2 separate regions of the Homo sapiens genome follow, and region 2 is linked to region 1. Evidence: fine-mapped expression QTL. Tissue or cell type: whole blood. Region 1 holds a variant in brackets; the other region holds the start of a gene. All regions are shown on one strand. Distances are from middle to middle.

Region 1 (4,240 bases):
CATCCTCTCCAGCCTTAATTATGACAGTAGCCTCCTACCTGGTCTCCCTGATTTCAGCCCTTCTTCTCCCTAACAGACCTTTCTCACAGCTCCCAGGTTGTGAATCCCTTGCCGGATGCTCCAGCTGCCACTTACCCAAGCACATGATGCTGTTGAATGTCGTTGTGTTTTGCAAATGTTGAATCATCTGCCTACAGTACCTTTCCCACTCAACGTGGCAAGAACCTACTTATTTTTGGAGGCCCAGTTCACAAGCTTTTTCTTTGGTGTTGCCTTCTCTCACCACCCTCCTGGGTAGAGTTCATTGTTCCTGTCTTAGCACTTCCAAAACACTCTTTTTCTTTTTAACACAGAACATCCTGGCTCTAGCAATGTACTGTAATTATTCGCCATCCTGTCTGTAGAGTAGACTGTGAGCTCCTTATGGGCAGCAGACATGGCGCATTCACACATTTATCCTCATATCCCTAATATCTAACAGTACCCAGCTTGCCCAGGAGGTGAGTGTTTGCTGGATGAAATCCAAAGGCCCAGCAATCACACGCCCACCCAGCCACTCACCCCCTCCCCCTGCCACGCACACAGGGTGCAGTGGCTCATGCCTGTCTGTAATCCCAACACTTTGGGAGGCTAAGGCAGGAAGATTGCTTGAGCCCCAGGGTTTGAGACCAGCCTGGGCAACATAGTGAGACCTCATCTACACACACACACACACACACACACACACACATACACACAGAGAACAAACAAGCAAACAAACTCAAAGGCACAGTTTTGAAGTATGAATTCATAGTACCTTTGCAGCTCCAACTCGGCCATTGAAAAAAACATGTCCTTCTCAGGCTGGCTTTCCCCTCCACAGTCACATGACTACGTCACTCATACATGCCCCTTCTGGCCATTTCAACATCAGTACAAGAAACTGTAGCTTTTACGCAAGGCAACGAGTTGCTTTCGGCCATCTCAGCTTTCTCATCCAGGTAGGTGGTCGTTATCAGTGATGTGGTCTAATCTGTAATGGAGTAATTGCACATGGGGAACAAGAGCTTATTTAATCGGTGTCCCCCAACTCCCATGATGGGTTACTGATATCAAAAGGTGTTTTTTGTTTGTTTGTTTGTTTTTAGATGGAGTCTTGCTCTGTACCCCAGGCTGGAGTGCAGAGGCGCGATCTTGGCTCACTGCAACCTCCGCCTCCTGGGTTCAAGCAATTCTCTGCCTCAGCCTCCCGAATAGCTGGGATTACAGGCGCATACCACCATGCCCAGCTAATTTTTGTATTTTTAGTAGAGACAGGGTTTCACCATCTTGGCCAGGCTGGTCTTGAACTCCTGACCTCGTGATCCACCCACTTCGGCCTCCCAAAGTGCTGGGATTACAGGCATGAGCCACCACGCCCGGCCACAAAAGTTTTTAAAATGGCTGGGAATGGGGGCTCACATGTATAATCCCAGCAGTCTGGGAGGACAAGGCAGGAGGACCAGTTGAGGCCAACCCGGGAAACACAGTGAGACCACATCGCCACAGAAAAATGTTAAAATTATTCAGACGTGGTGGCATGCACCTGTAGTCCCAGCAACTCAGGAGGCCGAGGCGGGAGGATGACTTGTCCCTGGGAGATCAAGGCTGCAGTGAGCTGTGATGGTGCCACTGCACTCCAGCCTGGGCAACAGAGCAAGACTTTGTCCCCAAAAAGAAAAAAATATCAACTAACCAAACAAACAAAACTTTAGTAAGCAAGCCTCCCACCCCTCTTTATAAGGGGGTTTTTACAGAGTTCTCATAGGTTCTCCCCAAACCCCACTCTCCAGTTTCTCCTAGTATTAACATTTTACATTACTATGATACATTTGTTGCAATTAATGAACCAATACTGATGCATTATTATTAATTAAAGTTTACAATGTATTCAGATTTCCTTAGTTTTTACTTAATATCTGACCTTCTCTATTCAAGGATCCCCTCCAGGGTCCCACATTGCATTCAGCCATCCTGTCCCCTTTGGCTCCTCTCTCATCTGACAGTTTCTCAGACTTTTCTTGCTGACCTTGACAATTTTAAGGGGTTCTGGTCAAGGGTATTATAGGGTGCCCCTCTATTGGACTGTTTCTGTTGTTTTTCACATAATTAAACTGGGGTTATGGGTTTGGGGGAGGAAGATCATAGAGGTAAAGTAGTATTGTCATCCCATCATATCAAAGGAGTAAGTAAATTGTTTAAAAAGTGAGAGTATGATCGTTTTTCCCTCTTCCTCAAACCTGTGTTTCCTCCTATAGTTGCTGTTTCTATTAATGGCCTCATCACACACACAGTCATGAAGGCTAGAAATTGCATCTACTCTTTCTTCTCCATCCTCCATCCACCTAGTCAATTTCTAAGAAGCCATTGCCCCAGAGCTTCCATATTCCCCCCTTCTCTTATCCATACTGCCTCTGGTTAACCCCGTATTATTTTTTCC[A/G]TAAATGATTACCATAGCCCCAACTGGTTTGCCAGGTTCCACTTCCCTACCTCTCCATTTTATTCTTCTTAGTAGTTTCAACTTACTAGTGGTTTAATACCAACTCCATCTTCATAAATCTTAGAATGGTTTTCTGTCACATACAGAATAATGTTCCAACTTCTCAGTATGGAATTCAACCTCTTCAGATGCTAGCTCCAGATGACTTTGTGGTAAACACTAGTTCCCTTAATCTATAATTAATGGGCTATAGGCATTTAATTAGCTGAAAAAGAAGTTGGCATTTTCTTAAATTGTTTTCTCCAGAAGAGTTAATGAAACTATGTGTATATTTGTGTGTGTGCATACATGCACATGCGTGTACAATGTGTAGACCTCACTGGGGATGCATATCTCTCTCCAGGTACCCATGGCCCAAAGGGTGGTGAACACACCCTGCCCACTTGCTGCATCGTTTGTATCAAGTTTAGAAAAGCTGAGAAGATGGTAAGGAGAAAATATACTTGCCCAGAAGTGTGTGTGTGGATGTTCAACAAGATCCCAACTCATTTTTTCTTTTTTAGTGGCTTAAAACAAGAGCACCTTTTATCTCCTGGTTGCTGTGGGTCAGGAATCCCCTGCACAGCGCGGCTGGTTCCCCTGGCTGAGGGCCATTCACAAGATCCTTCATTGAGGTATTGACTTCTCCATTCATTTTTGCACTTCAATCACAAACACTTCTTAAAATTAATTGGCCAAACCTCAGCTTCTTGAAACTTATATAATGCAGAGAGCCTCTGTCACATTCTGGGAATGGCATTTAAATGCAAATTGAATTCCTTCTTTCATGGGATAGCCAGTTGTCTATGTCACAGGATGTAAAAATAATTCATCATGCTTGATTGTGTAATACGGCTGTCCTATATTATACTTTAATGACAAAATTAATTGGCTTTCAGATTCCATCTGTCGCTATTCACATAAATCCACAATCTTCGTTATTAAAATTTAAAAGTGCATGAGGAATTTGTGAAATTCTCATAGGCAGCCTGCTGGAGAACGTGGGAACAGTCTAGACCAGGGACCCCTTTTGTTATACGCTACCCAACAATAGATGAAGAGAAGGGCTGACCCAGGTGGGGAAACCAGAGTGGAGAGAATAGGAGCCATGGGTCCAAGAGCACTCATAGGCAAGAGCTTGGATCAGTTACTGGATTAATTAATCAGGAAGATGAATGCTGTCTTTACATATTTATGAAGACTGAGCTCTTACCAGCTCAATGAAGCTGTGCTATGGGAAAAGGCAGAGACTGTGCAGAAATAGTCACCACTGATTTGGAAACTGTTTCATTTCCTGAGCTAATAACCAAACTCATTCCTCAGAGAGGAACAAAAACTGTTATTCTGGGGTGGGAAAACATCTATGGATCATCTGATACAAGCAGCAGCTGTAACCAAACCACTGGTATTGTCACCCTCTTTGGGAGTCCCATTTATTCATGGTAGAGAAGGTTTCAGTCTTCCATGGCTCTTGATAACTCTGGCAGTTACAGTTGCCAGTAGCGTAAGTTAAGACTGTTTATTAAGGGTTTTGTGGCAGGGTGCAGACATTGATATAGACCAAATTGGTCAGAAAGACGAAGAACACACAGAAAAACATGGCCTGTATTCCACTTTATGTGGATTTAGGTTTGTGTCCTCATCTTTACCTCGGCTCTCAAGAGGTATGCATGAGCATGGGTGTGCGTGCGCGTGCACACACACACACACACATCAGCCACTGTGTTCTTCCACTAGACTTCA
Region 2 (4,240 bases), 43 kb before region 1:
TATTTTCCTGAGCTAGGCTGGCACTCCCCTTCCCCACGTAACTTCACCCTTAAAAGAACAGAAATTAAAGTTTCTTTTTCCCTAGTCTTTTCCTATATTTTTCCTACTAACTTCATTCTTTAGACTCCTACAACACTTAACTTGTACCACACAATATAGCACTTACTTGTATAAATGCTATTCACTTTGCAATAAATCCCTGTACTTTATTATTATTTTGAGACAGGGTCTCACTCTGTTGTACTGGCTAGAGTGCAGTGGTGTGATCTCAGCTCACTGCATCCTCAACCTCCTGGGCTCAGGTGATCCACCTCAGCCTCCCTTGTAGCTGAGATTACAGGTGCACACCACCATGCCAGGTTAATTTTTTGTTTTTCAGTAGAGACGGGGTTTCACTATGTTGCCTAGGCTGGTCTCAAACTCCTGGACTCAAGCAGTCTGCCCGCCTTGGCCTCCCAGAATGCTGGGATTACAGGCATAAGCCACCACACCCAGCCCGTGCTTTCTTTTTTTTTTTTTTTTTTTTTTTTTGTGAGACGGAGTCTCGCTCTGTCACCCAGGCTGGAGTGCAGTGGTGCAATCTCGGTTCACTGCAAGTTCCACCTCCTGGGTTCATGCCATCCTCCTGCCTCAGCCTCCCTAGAGCTGGGACTACAGGCTCTAAATATTTTTAGTTTTAATATAGTTCAATTTATACATTTTTCCTTTATGATTAGTATTTTGTGTCCTGTTATAAACTTTTTGACTACTTCAAGGTTGCAAAGATGTTCTCTTATGTTTTCTTATTAACTTTTAAAATACAGACTGACAATCCAAATGAAATGTATTTTTGTTTATGATGTAAGGAGGGTCCAAATACAATTTTTTTTGCATGGAGAGACACAAATGACCTACCACTATTTTGTGAAAATATAATCTTTTCTCCATTGGTCCATGTTCTGGAAGACTTGTAAAAAATGAATTTTACATTTATGTCTATATATCTATTTACATAAATGGTTAAAAACTCTACACATAATTCTAATATTCTTCTATTTTCATGCAATACTGTTGACACATACAGCCTATTAATGGCTGCATATAATGCATATATGTGCATTATATAGATGTACTGTAATAATTTAATTAATTCTCTTAAAGTAGACATTTAGAGTATTTCCATTTGGCTATGTTATTGAGATGCTGAAATGAACATTTTGTCCAAAGTGAGTGCCAGCTGTTTAATTATCTCCTAAGGATAAACTGCGAGGAGGAGGAATTGCTGGGTTAAAATGCATGTCCTCTTTTTTTCCCGAGACGGAGTCTCGCACTGTCGCCCGGGCTGGTGTGCAGTGGTGAGATCTCGGCTCGCTCCAACCTCCGCCTCCCGGGTTCAAGCGATTCTCCTGCCTCAGCCTCCCAAGTAGCTAGGATTACAGGCGCCCGCCACCACGCCTGGCTAATTTTTTGCATTATTAGTAGAGACGGGGTTTCACTATGTTGGTCAGGCTGGTCTCGGACTCTTGACCTCGTGATCCGCTCGCCTCGGCCTCTCAAAATGCTGGGATTACAGGCGTGAGCCACTGCGCCCAGCCAAAGTGCATGTCTCTTTTCAACGTTTGCCTTCTGGGCTAGGCGGCTTGGCTCATGCCTGTAATCCCAGCACTTTGGGTGGCCGAGACCAACGGATCGCTTGAGTCCAGGAGTTCCAGACCAGCCTAAGATAGGGAGATGCCATCTCTCTAGGAGGATCGCGTGAGCCCGGGGAAGTTGAGGCTGCAGTGAGCCGAGATCGAGCCACTGCACACCAGCCTGGGTGAGGGTAAGACCTTGTTTCAGTAAACAAACAAATAAATAAGTTTGCCTTCCGTAAGGTTTCTAATAACGTTTTTCTTCCATCCACAGATGTAAACCTGTTTCCCCATAGTCACACCAACAGTGGTCATTACCAAGGTTTTACATCTTTGCTAAACCGAGTAAAAAGAAAACTTGCTGTTTTCATTTCCATTCTTGTCTAATAATAGTTTAAACAGTTTTGTATATCCTTAGTGGCTATTTGTTTGACTTTTTTGTTTTTTGGGAGGCCTGTTCTAATATTTGCTCATTTTCCTTCTGGGGTTGTTGGCCTTTTTCTTATTGGCTTATTAAGCAACATAATTAATATATATTATGTCATGTATATATAAACAATCTTATCTTGCAGTTCCCTAGTTTGGCTTTTAACCTATCGTCTTTTGAGCTGCAGTTTCAACCCAGTCTGTACAGGAAGTAACAACTGTCCAGAAGAGTCTGAAAGCCCTTGGGGCCAGCAGCCAGTGAGCGGAACCAGCACGTCCTGACAGACAGGTTTGCCCCGTCCCTTCCCTCCCTCCCCCTCCCCCTCCCCTTCGCCTCCCTGTCCCTCTCCCTTTCACCCCTCTTCGGGACGGAGCCAAAGAATGCTCCGCCTGCGCGCGCCGCTTCCGTTGCCATAGTGGCCGGGGGCGGGAGGCTGGCGCCTCCCAGCTTCTGTACTCCGCGAAGCAAAACCTAGGGAGCTGAGGCCTAGGCGAGGCGAGAGTCGCCGGCGTGCGTAACGTTGGCGCACGTGACTCCGGCCCGGCCTACAGGGCGCGTGCGCAGTGGGACTTGAGTGCCTCCTGGTCCCTGTCTGCCGGCATTCGCGGCTGCGGGGCCCGGAGGTGGGACTGGCTTCCCGGTGCCGCGAGGGCGGGTCCGGACAGCCTTCCCCCCAGTCCGGCGCACCATCTCCCTGCCTTGTGGCTGGAGGCGCCGCGGACCCAAAGGGAGGGACCATCCCGGGAAGCAGCCCCGAGAGCGGAAGTGCAGAATGGCTTCCTCGAGAGAGTAAAGTGCAGCCTCTCCAGACACTGGGGCCCCAGTGGGCGTGGGCGAAGGTAATCCAGGCCTGGGTACGATTCCGGGCCCTCCTTCGACTTCCCAGCGGGTGAGCCAGGGGCTGGGACTGAGTTTCCTCCAGGTCAGGGACCGGGCCTCTGGAGTGGGGTTTGGGACTTACTTCACTAGATGAAATGAGATATGGGGTGCCCGGCCCAAAGTCAGCCCTGGATACTCACTGGCCGTTGTTTTCACAGTTGCTGGTAGGAGGAGTTGGCGGAAGCACTTGGAACTCCTTTATAAGTGTCAGCTGTGAGGTAAAAACTGTTGATGAGATCTTGTGGGTTTTGTTTTGGGTTCACTAATTTGGGCGGGGGCTACATAACTGCCTACTTGAGTTTGCAATATGAGAATGGTAATAGCGACCCACTTAGCAGAATTATGATGTCACAAAGCTCAAAGGACTGTTTAATGAAAGGCTCAGAGGATCATATACTGGAAAATTTTTCCACACACGCTGTAAGCCACATGCTTTTTTTTTTTTTTTTAAGTCATGCATTTAAGTGCTGGAGTGAAGTTGAGGTGCACTATTAATGACTCATATTCAGAACCTGAAGAGAGAGATCCCTTTTGTGCTAAGTATGATATCCACTCATTTATTCAGTAATACTGAGTGCTTACTGTGTACCAGGCAATGTCCAACTTCTTGGAATGGTCTATGTGTAAACAAAACAAAGATCTCTGTCCTGTGGAGCTTACATTCTAGTTTGGGGAAGACAAATAATAAACAGTAAACAAAAAGAAGGAAGTTATAGGTTGGAAGTACATGAGTACCATAGGAAAAAAATACAGCGAGGTAAGAGGCATGGGGAATGCAAGATGCAATCTTAGGTAGGCTTCACTGAGAAAATGACATTTGAGCAAATATTGGAAGGAGGTGAAGGAGTTAGCTGTGCTGACAGCTGGGGAAAGAGCATTCCAGGCAGAGGGACCACCAATGCAGAAAGACTTTTGTCTTGGAATGTGCTTGGTGTCTTCAGTGAACAGCAGAAAGGCCTGTTTGGCTGGAGTAGTGAGTAAGGGAGTAGTAATAAAAATTAGGTGGCAACACAGCAAAAGTATAGTCAGAACGGTGGAGTGTCTGAATCACTTAAGTTGTCCTCATGTGAAGGTAATTTCCTATTAGCTTAGGTAAGGTTTCACAGCTTAACTACAGCCGTTAATTAGTATGTGAAGTTAATGATTAAAATTAGACTTTTTCCGAAATAGAGTATAGATGAGATCTAAACATGGCTGTAGTTTCCAGCAAGCACAATGCGAATTAAGACAGAGGAGCTTGTTGAAAAAAACTTTTATATGCCCTTATTTTAAGATTTTAGTGAATGTGGAAACACCTCAGTTTTGTCTTCCTTTAGAAATTTGT

What was found. PIP is the estimated chance that this variant, and not a neighbour inherited with it, causes the effect.
Region 2: CMTR2 starts here. The variant in region 1 is fine-mapped to the expression of CMTR2 in whole blood (TOPMed, PIP above 0.99).

Annotation. Positions count from the first base shown.
Region 1 is chr16:71,244,302-71,248,541 of GRCh38, reverse strand. No RefSeq gene overlaps it. Among named protein-coding and RNA genes, the nearest start is that of HYDIN, 16 kb to the right of the region's middle. The variant A/G (reference allele first, on the strand shown) is at 2,459.
Region 2 is chr16:71,287,772-71,292,011 of GRCh38, reverse strand. CMTR2 (cap methyltransferase 2) reads left to right here and starts at 2,610. Exons shown (of 3, transcript NM_018348.6): 1 at 2,610-2,876; 2 at 3,075-3,134. It overlaps LOC102723786 (a long non-coding RNA gene), which reads right to left and starts at 3,212. Exons shown (of 4, transcript XR_933707.3): 1 at 3,057-3,212. RefSeq lists silencers at 2,338-2,407, 2,488-2,857.